Linked DNA regions of Homo sapiens: region 2 is linked to region 1. The links come from fine-mapping of genetic effects on gene expression. A gene starts in region 1. The other region holds a variant in brackets. All regions are shown on one strand. Distances are between the middles of the regions.

The links.
Region 2: its variant is fine-mapped to the expression of CAPN9-AS1 in lung (TOPMed, PIP above 0.99).

The regions. Positions count from the first base shown.
Region 1 is chr1:230,790,890-230,799,222 of GRCh38, forward strand. It overlaps CAPN9-AS1 (CAPN9 antisense RNA 1), which reads right to left and starts at 4,322. Exons shown (of 2, transcript XR_001738518.2): 1 at 4,224-4,322. CAPN9 (calpain 9) reads left to right here. Exons shown (of 20, transcript NM_006615.3): 15 at 975-1,039; 16 at 1,537-1,605; 17 at 1,961-2,039; 18 at 4,274-4,390; 19 at 7,273-7,331.
Region 2 is chr1:230,711,108-230,719,417 of GRCh38, forward strand. It overlaps AGT (angiotensinogen), which reads right to left and starts at 3,015. Exons shown (of 5, transcript NM_001384479.1): 1 at 2,979-3,015. The variant T/G (reference allele first, on the strand shown) is at 3,033.

The DNA of each region.
Region 1 (8,333 bases):
GCAGTGAACCAAGATCACACCGTTGCACTCCAGGCTGGGCAACAGAGCAATACTCCGTTTCAGGGGGAAAAAAAGGAATCATACAATATGTGGTCCTTTCTGACTGGCTTTTCTCACATGGTGTGATGTTTTCCAGGTCCATCCATGCTGTAGCATGTATCAATGTCTCATTCCTTCTTACAGCCAGACAACATTCCATCGTATGGATGGGCCCTGTTCTGTTTATTCATTCATCTATTGGTGGCCACGTGGGTTGTTACCGGTTTTTGGTCATTATGAATAATGCAACTGTAAACACTCCTATACAAGTTTTTTGGGTGGGCATGTGTTTTTACTTCTCCTGGGTATATAGTTATGAGGATGGTTCCATCACAATGCAACAGTCTATGGTTACATGGTGGCATAACCATCCTCTTAATTATATGTTTAGTTAAGAGGATTGCTTAACTCTATGTTTAATGTTTTTAAAAACTATCCAACTGTTTTCTAAAGTGACTATTTCACATTTTCACCAGCAGCAGTATGGGAGTACAAATTTCTCCAACAAATTTAAATCCTGCCATTAAATATGCTGCAAAAACATGATTCCTAAGGGTCGTATAATACTTCATTATATAGACATAGCCTAAGGTATTGACCATGCCTCTCTATTGGTCATTATTTCACTTCCAAATTTTTGCCACTATAAATAATATGATGACAAAAATCTTCATATGTTATTCTTTGCTCGGGGTTCTTAGAACTAGAATAAATGGATGAAGGCGTATTCCCACTTTTATTGCTTTTTTCACATTTAGCCAATTTTCCTTCTGAAAGGTCATGTTAACTTCTACTCCTACCAGCATCATAAGAGAGTAGCCACATCACAGCCCCCAACAGCCCTGGATTTAGCCACATTATTGGGCTTTCAGCAGATGGGTACATAGGTTTATCTTATCGGGTCAACTGAATTCAGCTTTCATGTGCAATTTCAGAAAAGGACATCAAATTCAAGAAGCTAAGCCTGATCTCCTGTAAAAACATCATTTCCCTGATGGACGTATCCTTCCAAATATTTGAGCAGAAATAGACATGGATCCTGGGCTTTAAGCACAGTAGAGTAATCTTCAATAGTGCAGACTCTCCAAGAACATGACATCCTTAGCCAGCAGAATAGTCTTCTTCACAGAAAATAACCCAAAGCTGGGGGACCCCCATGCTGAAATTGGATCAGAATCAAGATGCACAAGACTGCCTAGTGGTGGGGGTGGGGAGCTTTTGAAGGGACTTGGGGGTCTTCTTGCCACTTTGGGATCCCATCCAAGGGAACAGAGTTCTGTTTTTGTGAACTTTCCGGGACCACCCCCATTCCACTTCTGCCGTTTCCCCTCTTCAGAGATTTGTGGTTTAATCATTAAAACCACTTCCCCAGGGCCCCAAACCTGTGCACCCAGGCCAGCCCATCGGCCCTCCCCCTCTGCAGTCCCAGAGCTGAGGTCCCACGAGGAGCCTCAGGTTGAAACACTGCTCATGTCTCCCTTAACCCACATGGCACAGACCAGCGGCAATGGGAAGCTGGAGTTTGATGAATTCAAAGTGTTCTGGGACAAGCTGAAGCAGTGGATTGTATGTAACCTGGAGCAGGGCTTGGCCTCTGGGGGACCCAGTGAACCTAGAGCAGAGGGGATTTAAAATGGTGCAGCAGGCTGCAGGCTATAGGCTAGAGGAATTGTATTCGGACAGGGGAGAAGGGAAAACAGCATCATGCTATTCCGATGCTTACGGGAGTACCACCGTGCTTCCACCCAAGACGAAAAGGAAGACAAAAGGGAGACCGACTTCTTTTGGAAGGCCCAGTCCAACTGTGGCCTCTGCGGCCCCTAGAGGGTAGCTCCCCCGGGCTGGCTGTCACCCATTTACTGCCATCAGCGATGCCTTTCAGGCACGCTCCTTCTCAAGGCTTCTGCTCTCCACCCTTTAGAACCTTTTCCTTCGGTTTGATGCTGACAAGTCCGGCACCATGTCTACCTATGAACTACGGACTGCACTGAAAGCTGCAGGTAAAGAAAAGACTGGAGTACAGGTGGCTGACTGCATGCCAGGTACTGCCTGTGGGCAACCTGAGCAGATGGCAGGTCTTCTCTCTGCTGCCCAGGAGGTGGGCCTCTGAGCCCAGTTGGTGATTCTTAAGGTCACGGCCCTTGGAGTGGTGGCACCAGGGTTCAGACCCAGGACTCACTTCCTGACACCAGGGCCCTCATTTTAAACCACTGTGAACATTGGTAGAAACTTTTTAAATGTATCTGCTAAAAATGAACTTGGCCTGCCCTCTGGAGGCCTCATAGCCTCTGACCATGTTTTCTGGCCCAGTACTTAACACATGGCTCTTTGGTGGCAAGCTGCAGTGATTCCAAACTTCTCATTTCTGCTCTCAGATGGTTGTTATCGTGGATGAGACAGAGCATGCAGCACCCATGGTTTGGGGTCCGCACGTCCCTCTGCCACCTGTGGCCCTGTCCCGGGTTTTATCAGCATCAGACTCTGAATCCAAAATGGATGACTGCATCATAGTTTATACCCTGCTCCCTTACCCAAAGGCTGGGCTCCAGGTGGCATTTCCCACTCTTGTCCGGTGCTGGATGGCTGTCGGCATCTCTGTGGTCCCATGTCCTGCACACACAACCGTAGTTTCCACGAGCGCTCTGCAGACCTCCCGCCTGCCGGGCTGCCTGCGCTTCTCACCAAGCACACCTCACAGATAGGGGCCTCCTGAACCTTTTAAAGTGGTTCTCTCCCAGGGAAAGCAAAATCTGGAAACATGTCCAGGCTCAGGCCTGATAAAAGGATGAAGTATACACAGCCAGGACCATCTCGGGTCCTATGTGAGGGAGAAGAAAATCAGATGATTTATAAATGAGCAAAGTGCCAGGCTGAGAAGGGGCGCCTGATTTTCTTAGGGGATGATGACTCTGTTTCCATGGTAGGAGGAGGAACTGAGCAGGGGACAAAGGGAGCACTCAGAGAGGAGGGGCATGGCTGTGTCTTTCCTACCCTGACGTGGTGTGGGGAGAATCGCCCCTCATCCCCCTCCTCTAGCCCCAAACATCAGGATTCTGGCCAAGGCTGGCAGCCAGCACTGCCGTGCAGGCTCCAGGGACTCTGTGCTCTGTGTCTGACCTGCCTGCTCCTCTGCTGGAATTAGGAAGAAGCAGAAAGACCCTGGGTGGATTTCTGAACAATCCTGTGAACACCTCCTAGAAAGTGAACATGTAGACAAAAATGAAAGGGGGAAAGAAATCACTTCTAAGGGCACTAATTAGAAATCAAAGCACTGGCCAGGTGTGGTGGCTCACACCTGTAATGCTAGCACTTTGGGAGGCCTAGGTGGGTGGATCATGAGGTCAGGAGTTTGAGATCAGCCTGGCCAACATGATGAAACCCCGCCTCTACTAAAAATACAAAATTAACCAGTTGTGGTGGCAGGTGCCTGTAGTCCCAGCTACTCAGGAGGCTGCAGCAGAAGAATCACTTGAAATCAGAAGGCAGAAGTTGCACTGAGCCGAGATTGCACCACTGCACTCCAGCCTGGGCAACAAGAGTGAAACTCCATCTCAAAAAAAAAAATCTAAATATCAAATCCAGAAGGAAGTTCACTTTGTCTAAACTCCTCATTTGACAATGAGGAAACCAAAGCCCAGAGAACTGAACCCATATGCCACGGCTGGAGCAGTGCCAGGGCTCAGATCCAAGCCTCCTGGCTATAGCCTGTCATTCTTCCCCCATCGTGGATGTGTAGGAATGGGCCCTGGCAGAGTATCATTCTCCGTGGGCAGCAGCATCCCCTCCAAGAAACTTTCTAGGGCCACAGCTGGAAGTGACCTGAGACATAGAACGCGAGGGGAGGCTGGTGTAGGAATGAACTTGGGGCTCAGACACCACCCAGTGTTAAGTTCCCCCAAACAAAGCTTCCTGTAAAGTCAGCGAGACTCTATGGGTGATGTTAGCATCAAAATTAAGATCACAAACTCGCTAAACTCAGAAGCCATTAAACACAGAAAGCACGCCTGAGAGTCCCCCGCACACTCGCCCCTGCACCACAGATTCACACTCTCACGCTGCATTCACACCAAGGGCAGCAGTCCCACTGGGTCTGGGGACCCCAGCTTTGAGGAGTGAAACAGTGGCTTCCTCTTCTGAGCCCTCTCCTCAGCTGCCTGGGAGCTCCCTCAAAGGTGCAGACTCACCTCGGGGCTCGGATACAGCGAGTCCTGGGTCTCCTCCTTTGTCCCCACAGGCTTTCAGCTGAGCAGCCACCTCCTGCAGCTGATTGTGCTCAGGTATGCGGATGAGGAGCTCCAGCTGGACTTCGATGACTTCCTCAACTGCCTGGTCCGGCTGGAGAATGCGAGCCGTAAGTGTCCAGCGAGGCTGAGGGTGCACCTCGGGGTGGCATCTTCAGTCACCCTCCATGAGCGCATGAGAAACAGCCTGGTTAAAGTAATGGCAAAGATAGACCACAGAGAGCCATGGTCTGATGTGTGTGGACCCATGGGCCTGTGCGGTTAGCTAAGGAGCAGAATGTGCCAGCCTCCCCTGCAGCACGTTTCTTAGCATCGCCTTTCTTTATACATTCACAGTGCCTCTGTGGGAGGATGATGGGCTGGGGCAGGTTTGTGCCTTGTGTTTGAGGAAAGGTTCAATTGCAGGTCAAATCCCATCATAGCATATAGAAACAGGAGAGTCTCAGTCCCCCTTCCTCCCCCCTTCCCCGCCCTGTAAGCCCTAGACATTGACCCAGTTATCTCAAATAAGATTTGTTACACCACAAATAGAGAGGGATTATGTGCCCGTGCGCTTCAGTGTTTGCAGTTTATTGTCATAGCCATCCTGCCCCTCAAAGGTGGTTTTGAAGGTGAGGCTGAGTGAAGCATGTCCAGGGCCTGTAACTCAGTACTGGAGTGGCTATGAGGACATGCCCTGTGTGCAGGTGCCAAAGGACCCGTGCCCTCAAGGGTGCCTCGTGCTTGGTTTAATGTTCTGGCGTTTCCATCTTGAAAGTCTTCACAACTTAGGAGCAGGGGGCCCCGCATTTCCATTTTGTCCTGCTTGGTATTTTCTAATCTATGTTCCATAGGCCACTTCGAGGTATGAATACTTGATTAAAAAAAAAAAAAAGGCAGGGGGCTGGGCACAGTGGCTCACGCCTGTAATCCCAGCACTTTGGGAGGTTGAGGCAGTTGGATCGTGAGGTCAGGAGCTCGAGACCAGCTCATAGCGAAACTTTGTCTCTACTAAAAATACAAAAAATTAGTCAAATGTGGTGGTATGCACCTGTAATCCCAGCTACTCGGGAGGCTGAGGCAGGAGAACCCCTTGAACCTGGGAGGTGGAGGTTGCAGTGAGCTGAGGTTTGCCACTGCACTCCAGCCTGGGCAACAGTGGGAGACTCCATCTCAAAAATATAAATAAATAAATAAATAAATAAATAAATAAATAAATAAATAATAAAATTAAATTAAATTAAAATAAAAAGGTGAGGGCTGTGACCCTTGGTTATCAGCATGATAGCTCCCTCTGCTTCTTTGGTAATAGAACACTAATTACTTGCCTGAAGCACAGCCCCTCTAGACTCTAAGCTCCAGGAGAGCCGTAATTTCTGGACAATCAATGAGTATGTGTTGATTAAGGAATGATGAGAGAAAATCAGAGACAGACCAGCAGGCCCCAAAGGGTCTAGTATATCAAGCCAGGAAGCCGGCTTTCCCTAAGGGGTTACTGGTAGCTAGTGAGAGGTGCATTCTAGAAAGACCCCTCCTGAAACAGAATCCGTTATTAGACTTACAGGGTGGTCAGAGCTGACCCTAGAAATAATGAGATTTGCTAGTTTCTCTTCTCTCCATTGCTCTTTCCCTTTCTAAACCACCCAGGTGTAATCCTTCCCAGAACGGGGGGTGGGAGTGCCTCAGCTTTTCTTATAGTAGAGGAATATTAGGGTGAAGACCCTTTAGGCTTAACACCATCCACTCTGGCATCCTCACATTAGATTTGCCTGGAGAACTTTTAGAATTACCAAGGATGGAGCTTTGCTGCAGTATTATTTTAACTTTTTATTGTAAGAATGTCAACCCTCCAGTTAGATATAAAGAATCATAATAGGTTCCCATGCACTCCACATCAGCACTTCTCAAACTTCGCTGTACATTACAATCTCCAGGGGTGCCTAAAGAAATGCTGATGACCAGGCTGCACAGTTGACCAATTCTGTTAGAATCTCAGGGGTGGCACACAGCATTGGGAGTTACGCAAATTCGCCAGGTGTTTCCAGACCTTTACACCCAACCTCAACAATTACCATCTTGCTAACTTTTCCCTTGTGCTCCCGCAACACATACATTTTCCCCCTAAATAATTTAATAGCAGATCTCAGAAACTCTGTCCATTCATCTGAGTATCTCCAGCTGATAGACTTGTTTTTAGCATCATCTTCATACCATTTGCACACCTAACGAAATTCTCAGCAAACCCTCAACATTCTCTAGTGCCCGGTTCATGCCCAAGTCTTCCAGGCCACCTTTTTACAGTTGCTTGGTTGACTCAGGATCCACACAAGACCCAGTCACCATGTTTGGTTGTTGGGTCTCTTCCATTTCTTGTGTCCAGTGATGGTCCCCCACCCCGCTTTGGGTTGTATTATTAAAGCTACCCGAGAGATTCTCAAGTGAAGCCAGGGCTGATTGGCTCGACCTCGTCTTCTGAAGGTGAGGAGGCTGAGGCCCCAAGAGGGCAGTGACTTGCTCAGGTGCACTCAGGTCACTACACCATGCGGTAGACCCAGCCCCCAGCTCAGTGCTGGCACGCTCTCCTGTGCCACTCTGTCCTCTGACAGCACCCACGGCACCTTCCTACAAGGGCGAGACTAACAACTTTCAGATTCATGCAAAACTTTACGTGCGTGTGCTTTTTTTCTGGGGCCTATGGATTTCAAGGGCCCTGTACCCCCCAGAAGGTTAAGATAGGGGCGTTGCTTTGGCTCCAGGAGCTGCTGGCCGGCTGACTGGCTTAGGTGACCACTGGCTTGCTACAGGACTGGATGCCTCCATCCGTTCAGAGAAGTTCACCTTCAGCCCGCCCTTGATGAGAGTCCCATCGCCGCCCTTGATGAAAGTCCTTGTTTACCACCAGATGGAGCAGCTTCCCCACAGGCTCCACTGGAAGGCCCTTTGGTCGCTGGGAAACAAACTTGGTAAAGGAATTGTCTTTAAAAGGATGCCTTTCCCCCTTCTCTCCTATCAGGGGTGTTCCAGGCTCTCAGTACAAAGAACAAGGAGTTCATTCATCTCAATATAAATGAGGTATGGCCAATCCAGACCCTCTGCTCAGGGACCCAGCTGGGGCCCAGCAGAGTCCACGCTGCATAGATGTTTGCCGAATGCTTGATTTCATGCAAGGGCTGACATCTAGCTGTGGGAGTGATTATAACAAAATAGCTAATATTTTTGAGATACTATTTATCAAGTAATCAATTAAGCCATTACAATAATTCTGTGAGCTAAGTACCAATAGTATCCCCATTTTGCAGGGTGGAAACTGAGGCATAGAGAGATTAATCACCTTGACTTGAGTGAGTGAGCAGACTCTGCCTTCTTGTCCTTCTCTTCCTTCTGTCATTTGGGTAACTTAGCCTGCCTGCCTTCCAGCTGCCAGTTTGCTCACTCTCCCTTGCTCATGTTGTCCCGTGGTTCCCATGACACTCCCCCAGACTCCAATAAGTACAAAACTGGCCAGTTACCGGGGCCATTGTAGCAATGACGGGGGTGGGAGACCATGGGTCTGAGTGTCAGAGGTATGGGAGAAGGATTCCAGGGGGTTTCAATCACCCTCTCCCCAGAGGATCCCAGTGGACCCATCTGCTCACAGGGAGGTCCATGGGCCAGCAGCAGCATAGGCATCACTTAGGAGAGAGCGTTGGAAATGCAGAGTGCCAGGCCCTGCCCCAGACCTGCTGAATGGAAGTCGTCTTTCACAGGACCCCACTGATTCCTGTGCACATGAAGCTTGGGAACGCTCTTGAGACATTCTCCTGCCCAAAGGCAGAGGGGAAACTGTGGAGCAGTTTCCTTCAATGGTTCTGTAATTTTTATCTCCCTTTTCCTTCTTTCCCTCCCTGTATCTTTCTTTCCAGGTCTGCTTTCTCTTCTACCTAACAACTCTGAAGCCAGGCAGCCTGTGGCTCCTCCCCAGTCTCTGGAGTTTCTCCTCTCCACCAATTTCCATACTCACAGTCACAGCCAGCTCATTTCCAAATTCATTAGTAACTTTGGGTTTGGATAACATTTAATTGAATATTTCAAGAT
Region 2 (8,310 bases), 80 kb before region 1:
CCTCAACCCCAGGACCTCAGAATGTGACCATTATTTGGAGACAGGATCTTTAAAGAGATGATTAAGTTAAAATGAGGCCATGAGGGTGAGCCCTGATCTAATATGACCTGTGTCCTTATGAGAAGAGGAGATGAGGACATGGACACACACAGAGGGAAGACCATGTGGGGACACAGAGGGAAGACCATGTGGGGACACAGAGAGAAGACGGCCATCTACAAGCCAAGGATAGAGGACCCAGAGGAAACCAACTCTGCTGATGGCTGGCTCCCAGGCTTCTAGCTTCCAGAACTGTGAGATAACACATTTCTGTTGTTAAACCCTCCCAGTCTGTGGTACTTATGGCAGCCCAAGCAGATTAAGACATGCTCCTGCCTGCAGCTGTAAGTTCTCTTCCTAGAGAAACAAGTGTGTGCCAATCAGTAGGTCTTTGTGGAGGCCTCCTAGACCCCTGAGATGCTCATTCGAGGGCCCTAGGGTGAGGGCTGGGGATGGTTTTGTCATCTCCCTGTGGTCCCAACATGCAGCCGGGATTGAGCACCACAGGCTCAGCCCAAAGTCCAAGTATTTCCCACGTGTCTCAACCCCAAAACCAGCTCTCAACCATCCCTGCATAGCGCTATCCCCTGCAGAGCCCCAAAGGCATGCATACCTAGCATGGCTTGCCCAATGATAGTTGGATTCCTTAGTCTGTGCTGGGACCACGTATAAAAAAAAAAAAAAAAAAATAGAAAATTCTCAGGTGACTCTGATATGTAAGCAGGGTTTAGAACCCCTGCCCTAGACACGGGTCCAGCACCACGTTCTCTCAAAGGCCTTGCAGCTGGGCTTCAGCCTCAGCTGCTACAAATGAAAGCTACCCTGAGACCCCCAGAAGAGGTTCTTGGGCTGGCCCTGCTAATTCATTTCATCTGACTCTTCTTGATTGAAGGGATGAACGTTTATTCTATTGATTCATTCAATTCTAACATTTTGTACCACATCTCACTCATTTCTTGTGGAGGGGGGTGTACTGCAATATCGTCACTTCTTGGCCTTTTCTGTCCCCCCAGGGCTAGGCCAGGCTTCCTTGGAGCTGTAGCGTGTCATCACTGACTCAAGGCCACCTTGATGCCTAGATTTTTCTGCTTCATCTAAGCATACCCAGTCATTCTTCTTACATTGGCAGCTGGCTTCCCTCACCCAGACCCGTAACCAGCACCTGCCCTCAACACGGTGCAGCTGCTGAAGTACCTGGTGTGTTTTGTTCTGCTTCAGTCATTCAAATGCCAAATTCTGACCTCAGCTACCATCTCACCCCACTCCCCATGCATTTGACTCCATCCGCTGTTCTCAGGAAGAGCCACATGACATGGAAAAATGGAACAGAAAACTCTCTCTGCTGCTTGCAGGCCTTTCTGTGCAGAGAAGCCTAAGCCACCAGTTCACACCTAATCTAGACAGTCACATCAAATCAGGTCAACAGGGGAAACCTGTGGGAACCGACTGCTGGGAAGTCCTGCCTGACAAGCGCCAACTGTTCGGGGTTTGGATGGCGCTGGTCGATGCAGCCCGCTCACTGTGCTGCTCCTGCTCAGGCAGCGTCTCCAGAGACGCAATTCCATGGGCCATTTTTGAGGCAGAGACTGTCGTTTGTTCTCAGTTGTGATCTGCGGCTGCTCCCTAGGCTGGTTCCAGGTCTGCACGCAGCCGCGTCCTGGGAGTAATGGTGCTCTGGGGTGGCGGGCCTGACACCCTCGCCCTGAGTGCCCCTCCGCCTTCTCCTCTCCTGCCCCTGCCTCTTGGCCAGCACCTGCCCCTTCTATGTCTCCCTACTTCTCCCGGGCTGAATGCTAAAGGTGAAGATGACGGCTCATGCTCCTGTGGTGCCTGCCATTTGCAGGGCACTGTTCTCATATCAACCCCTCTGACCTCACCATAGTCCTCACCTTCCCTGAGGTTTCCCTGATGCAGTATTTCACCCTGCAGCTTTCCCCACCACACCGGGCACTCTCAACTCTCTCATCCAGCTCCCCTTTTCCCTCCTTATAACCCTCTGTACCATGTAGTTATGCACTTATTCTGTCCAGCGTCTTTGTCTGTTTGCTCTGATGTGAATGTGAGCCCCGGAACAGGGTTCCCGCTGTTGTGTTTACTAATACAGCCCACATTCCTAGGATAGTCCCTGGGACCTACTGCATCCTGGAGAAGTAGTTAATGAATTGGTTCATGCTGTTTTGCAGAGGAACAGAGAGGTCCAGTGACTTGTTCAACGTCACACAGCTGGGAAGAGACAGAACTAGGACTCAGAACCAGGCCCCCTGACTCTGTCATCCACGAGCTGAAGCACCAATCTACGCTGCCCTCGAATAAAATTGGAATCTGCCTTTTAGCTTATCCCAAAGCTTAGAAAGCACTTTCATGTTATATTAGTTCTCTTCAGCTATACCAGAGCCCCTGAGACAGGGAGCCCAGGCATCGTTATTAGTTCCATTTTATAGGTGAGCAAATCGAGGTTCAGGGAGATGGTGACCAGCCTGATGACACACAGTCAGGCAGTCTGTCTCGAGGGAGGGGTAGGGTGACCACTCTGGGGATCCCAGCTGGAGACTGACCGAGCCCGGCCCTTCCCTCCAGCCCCAATTCCTGCACAAGCCCTGCTATTCCTCCTGATGGCAAGAGGACCCGGTGGACTCTTGGCCATGATGACTCTGTTCCTGTACCAGTCTGCTCCGTTCCTGAGGACCCTAACTTTTCTCAGCGGAAGCAGGAAGACCTGACCATCTTGTCCTATTGCTGAGGAGGAGCAGCTCCTCCTGTAAGACCCCAGGTGGGCACCGAGTGGGGGAAAGCCCGCGTCCGGATGACTGGTCTTATGAGAGGGGAGAGGTTTTTCAGTCATCACCGTGCCTCCTCCCGGCCTTTTCCTCCTAGCCCACAGCTCAGTTACATCTGAGAGAGACAAGACCGAGAAGGAGCTGAGGGGGCCCCCGGCTTACCTTCTGCTGTAGTACCCAGAACAACGGCAGCTTCTTCCCCCGGCCGGGTCACGA[T/G]GCCCTATTTATAGCTGAGGGGTGGGGATGGAGCTGTTCCCAGGCTGCCTGTGCACAGGCTGGAGAGGAGGGTTACATCACTTGGCCAGACCACAGGCTGGCCAGAAGGACAGATGCCAGAAGCGACACTCACGCTGGGACCTCTTCCAGGAAGTCTTAGTGATCGATGCAGAGTTTCACTGCTGAACAGAGTGAGCCGGTGCAGGGTCGAGTTACACATTTACCGAAGTTTGCAGGAGTCGGGGCCAAGGTTCCCAGAAACGGGAGCATCTCCCTAGGTGTGTGACAGCCTGAGGCCAACCACCCAGGCCTTCTGACCCAGCCCCGGGAGATGTACCCCCAAGAGGCCACAGGGACATGCAGGCCGGAGGTGCAGAGGGCAGAGGGCAGGGGAGAGTCTTGCTTAGGCAACACGGGGGCCACTTCTGACCCTGCTGCCCGCTCATGGGATGTGTGACCTTCAGCTGCTCCAAAGAGCCTACCCTGTGCAAAGGCCTCTAATAGACACTGGGGAAAACACACAAGCAAGTGAAAAGTGCCTTCTGGAAGTTTCCAGTGTAGCTGGGGAGACTGTTAAACACCAACAATAGCACAGCCAGATTGAAAGACACAAACAAAATGCCTTCAGGATGCAGGCATTGAAAGATGTGCTGTTCTGTGTTTATGCTGTACAAATTGCAAATGGTAAGTTTCACATGACCAGTAAAAGGGTTATAATTCTTATTTTCCTATAGGTAAGACTTGCTTTTGTAGTCATTATAACAGGGCATGACAGAGACCTTGGTGAGAGTCGCCAGAAGCCAGTGATCACAAGTGACGCAGTGGGTGAGGCAGGTTGGGAGTGGTGATGTGTCCAGCCTTAAATACATGGTATTAGGGCACTGAAGGGACAGGAAGGAAGATCCTGCTTCAACACAAGCAGGTTCAAGGAGCCACGGCATATCCACGATGGCAGACATGAAATTACCCAGGAATGGAACATTTAACAACAAAGAGCAGGAAGAGATGGTGCCTGGATATGAGGCAGAAGCTGTACATTCACTGACTGAACAATCAACAAACACACAAATACCTCTTTTTTACCCATTACTCTAAATCTTCATTTAAAAAAATCATATCTCACATGGGCCTGTAAATTCTGAAATACATTTTTTTAATTACTTTGTTCCTATAGATAGGGACTCCTCAAAAATCACTTGTCTGGGGCCCCACAGCGACTTAGAGGTGGCTTTGTCTGAACAGAACATTCGGGCCAGGTACAGTGCCTCGCATCTGTAATTCAAACACTTTTTGAGGCCAGGAGATGGAGGTTACAGTGAGCTATGATTGCACCACTGCACTCGAGCCTGGGCTACAGAGTAAGACTCTGTCTCTAAATAAATAGACAATTTTAATTTAATTTTTTTAAAATAAGAGACCATTCAAAGTGCTCCTGCCTGCGAATGGGTTAGTTGGAACAGTAGAGACTGGGGTCCTAGGCCTGGCTGTGCCACTAACTAGTTGTTTGAGGATCAGCAAGTGGTTTAACTGCAGTAACAAGTCCACCTGGACACAAGGGGGAGGTAAGGATCTAGCACTGATTAAGCAACAACCTTGTGCCCAGTGTTTAAATATTTCGGCTCTTTAAAGCCTCACAATTTGTTTCATTCACTCACTATTCCTGGTGCTCAGCATATGTCAGGGAACAAAACAAAGATCCTGGTCTTTGGGAGAGTTTCCACTGTGCCTGGGCCTCCTGCCTCGGGCCCTTGGAATGATCACTCCATTCAACAGCAAAGATAATAAACAACTGATCAGGTAACATGCTGGAAAGTGGTGTAAAAGAAAATAAAATTTCAGGACCCTCTAAATTTGGCCTCTAAGCAAGCCAAACTTCTCTTAATAATGACACGTTACTGGGGAGAACATAAGAAAATAATTTTGGTTAGATTGGACCCAATAAAGAATATCTGCTTAAACTTGTTGCAAGATTGGTTAAAAGCCCTTAATCCATGCCCAAGGCTGACTATCAGCTGGGGGATCTTCTACGTAAGGCTTTAAAGCTCATTAAAATCAATCAGAAAATTGCTAGAGAATTTTATTGAGAATGTAAATTATTCCCATAAGGAGCAGCCATTCAAACTGACTGCAGACATTTGACCCAGCTCAGATTCAGGCCAGTTTTCTTCCCAGTAGGCACCTTCTGTGTTCATTCCATCAGTGGAAGTTTCTTATGTGTACATTCCATCAGTGGAAGTTAGGGACAGAGCTTATCTGTGGCTAAATGAAGACTGTTGAATGAAAAGCAGAGGTTCTACATAGAAACCAAATAAGCCATCTGATATGGTTTGGCTGTGTCCCCACCCAAATCTCCAATTGTAGCTCCCATAATTCCCATGTGTCATGGGAGGGACCCAGTGGGAGGTAATTGAATCATGAGGGTGGATCTTTCTGATGCTGTTCTTGTGATAGTGCATAAGTCTCATGAGATCTGATGGTTTTATAAAGGGGAGTTCCCCTGAACATGCTTTCTCTCTTTTGCCAGCCACCATGTAAGATGTGCTTTTGCTCCTCCTTCACCTTCCACCATGATTGTGAGGCCTCCCCAGCCACGTGGAACACATAAGTCCATTAAACCTCTTTTTCTTTATAAATTACCCAGTCTCTGGTATGTCTTTATTAGCAGCGTGAGAACAGATACCATCAGTCAGAATCGGATCCAGGAAACCAGCCACATATGGAGTCAGCAGAGCATGATGTATTAGTCAGGCAGGTGCTATTGGGATATGTAGGGAAAAAAAAGAGAGATCAGACTGTTACTGTGTCTATATAGAAAGGGAAGACATAAGAGACTCCATTTTGAAAAAGAGCTGTACTTTAAACAATTGCTTTGCTGAGATGTTGTTAATTTGTAGCTTTGCCCCAGCCACTTTGACACAGCCCTAGATCCCTTAAACCTTGATTTTATACAACACATGTTTTTGTGAGCTCCAGGTTGGGTCAAAGTGGCTGGGGCAAAGCTACAAATTAACAACATCTCAGCAAAGCAATTGTTTAAAGTATAGCTCTTTTTCAAAATGGAGTCTCTTATGTCTTCCCTTTCTATATAGACACAGTAACAGTCTGATCTCTCTTTCTTTTCCCTACAGGGATGATGACGTTTGGGATCAGTTCTACTCTGTGGTTTCTGAGATGAGACTTGGTCTAAACTAGAACTCCTACTTTCCAATCTCTTGACCACCCAGCTAGTCATGGGATGAACACATAAACTCCTCTCTCCAGCAAAACTAAACCAAACCAGGAAAGCAGATTATTTATTTATGTATATGATGCAATCAAACCTGGAACCAGCTGTATGAGGTAAGGAAAGAATGAAGGGTAAATACAGGAATGGGGTTTCCATTTTTTGCCTCTGAGCCAAAACTAATTGTTTCACAGGAGCCTTGTTCTCTGCTGGGATCAGAACTGCAACCCCACATCATGCCTTGGAAGAGGCATGTGAGCCCTGAACATCATTTACTGGAAAGCAGGAAGAGGGGTGGAGCCTACTGTCCTGCATCCCATGATGGATCCTTGAAGTTCCAAGTTTTCCTTGCATGACAAGGACACTTCCCAGCATTTCTGGTCCTCATTGCTGCCCATCTATATCATGGGGGCTGGAACCGGGCATTTGGAGCTCTCGATTTGTAAAATGGGCTCATTAGGGAAAAGTCCATTTCTTTCCAATAAAGAACACTCAAATACAAACAGAATTTTCTTAAGTTGGCTCACATGGGCTTTAGACTCCTGACAAATAAAACAAAATAGTCTGAGCTCCCCCATTTCACCCAGGAGAAATGGCTGTATTTTTGTGTGTTGTTTTAGAGTTGGGGTCTTGCTCTGTCCTCCAAACTGGAGTGCAGTGGCATGATCATGTCTCAAAGAATCCTCCTGCCTCAGTCTCCAGAGTAACTAGGACTACAGGTGCATGCTACCATATCTGGCTAATTTTTTTATTTTTATTTTTTGTAGAGATAGGGTCTTGCTATGTTGCCCAGGCTGATCTTGAACTACTGGTCTCAAGTGATCCTCCTACCTCAACTTCCCAAAGTGTTGGGATTACAGGCATAAGCCACCATTCTCAGCCTGTTCTTTCTTTTTTAATAATAATTTTTATTGTATTTATATAAGGTGTACAGCATGATATTTTGATATGAAGATAGTAAAATGATTATGGTAGTCAAGAAAATTAACATATCCATCATCTCACAGTTACTCATTTAGGTGGCAAGGACACGTAAAGTCTACTCTTTTAGCAAAAATCCCAAGTGCAATGTGACATTTTTAAGTATAGTCCTCATGTTGTACGCTGGATCTCTAGACTTGTTCATCGTATATATCTGCTGCTTTGTATCATTTGACCTACATCTCCTCCCTGCTCTCCTCCTCAACTCCTGGTAACCACTGTTGTATTCTCTATCTCTGTATATTCACTTTAAAAAAAAAAAAGATTCCACATATAAATGAGGTCATGCAGTATTTTCCTTTCTGTATCTGCCTTGTTTCATTTAGCATAATGTCTTCCAGTCATCCATGTTGTAGCAAGCGGCACAGTTCCACACCGCTTTTTTTTTTTTTTTTTTTGTGAGACAGGGTCTCACTTTGTCACCCAGGCTGGAGTGCAGTGGCACAATCATGGCTCACTGCAGTCTTGACCTCCCTGGCTTAAGTGATCCACCCACCTCTGCCTCCCTGGTAGTTGGGACTACAGATGCATGCCATGACACCTGGCCAACTTTTTTGTACTTTTTTGTAGAGACAGGGTTTCACCATGGTGCCCAGGCTGGTCTCAAACTCCTGAGCTCAAGTGATCTGCCCACCTCAGCCTCCCGGAGTGCTGGGATTAAGACATGAGCCACCATGCCTGGCCTTTATGCTTTTTTGAAGGCTGAATAGTATCCCATTGTGTGTATACAGTATGCCAAATCTTTATCTATTCATCTGTTGACAGACAGAAGTCGTTTCCATATCCTGGCTATTGTGAATAATGCTGCATTGAACTTGGGAGTGCAGATATTGTTACTAGGTGTTGACTTTATTTCCTTTGGTATATTCCCAGATGCCTGCTCCTCCTATTGAATCCTTTTAGACATCACCTGATACCTCGGGCAGTGCCCTATGGACTGCTGTTGATTCAGACATAGCTGTCCATGAGCTGGAGGAAAACGGTCATATAAGATAAAGTTCTGGGAAATTTTGTGATTGCAGCACATTTCTTTCTATTTTTTATTATTATTATTATCATTATGTTTTTTTTTTT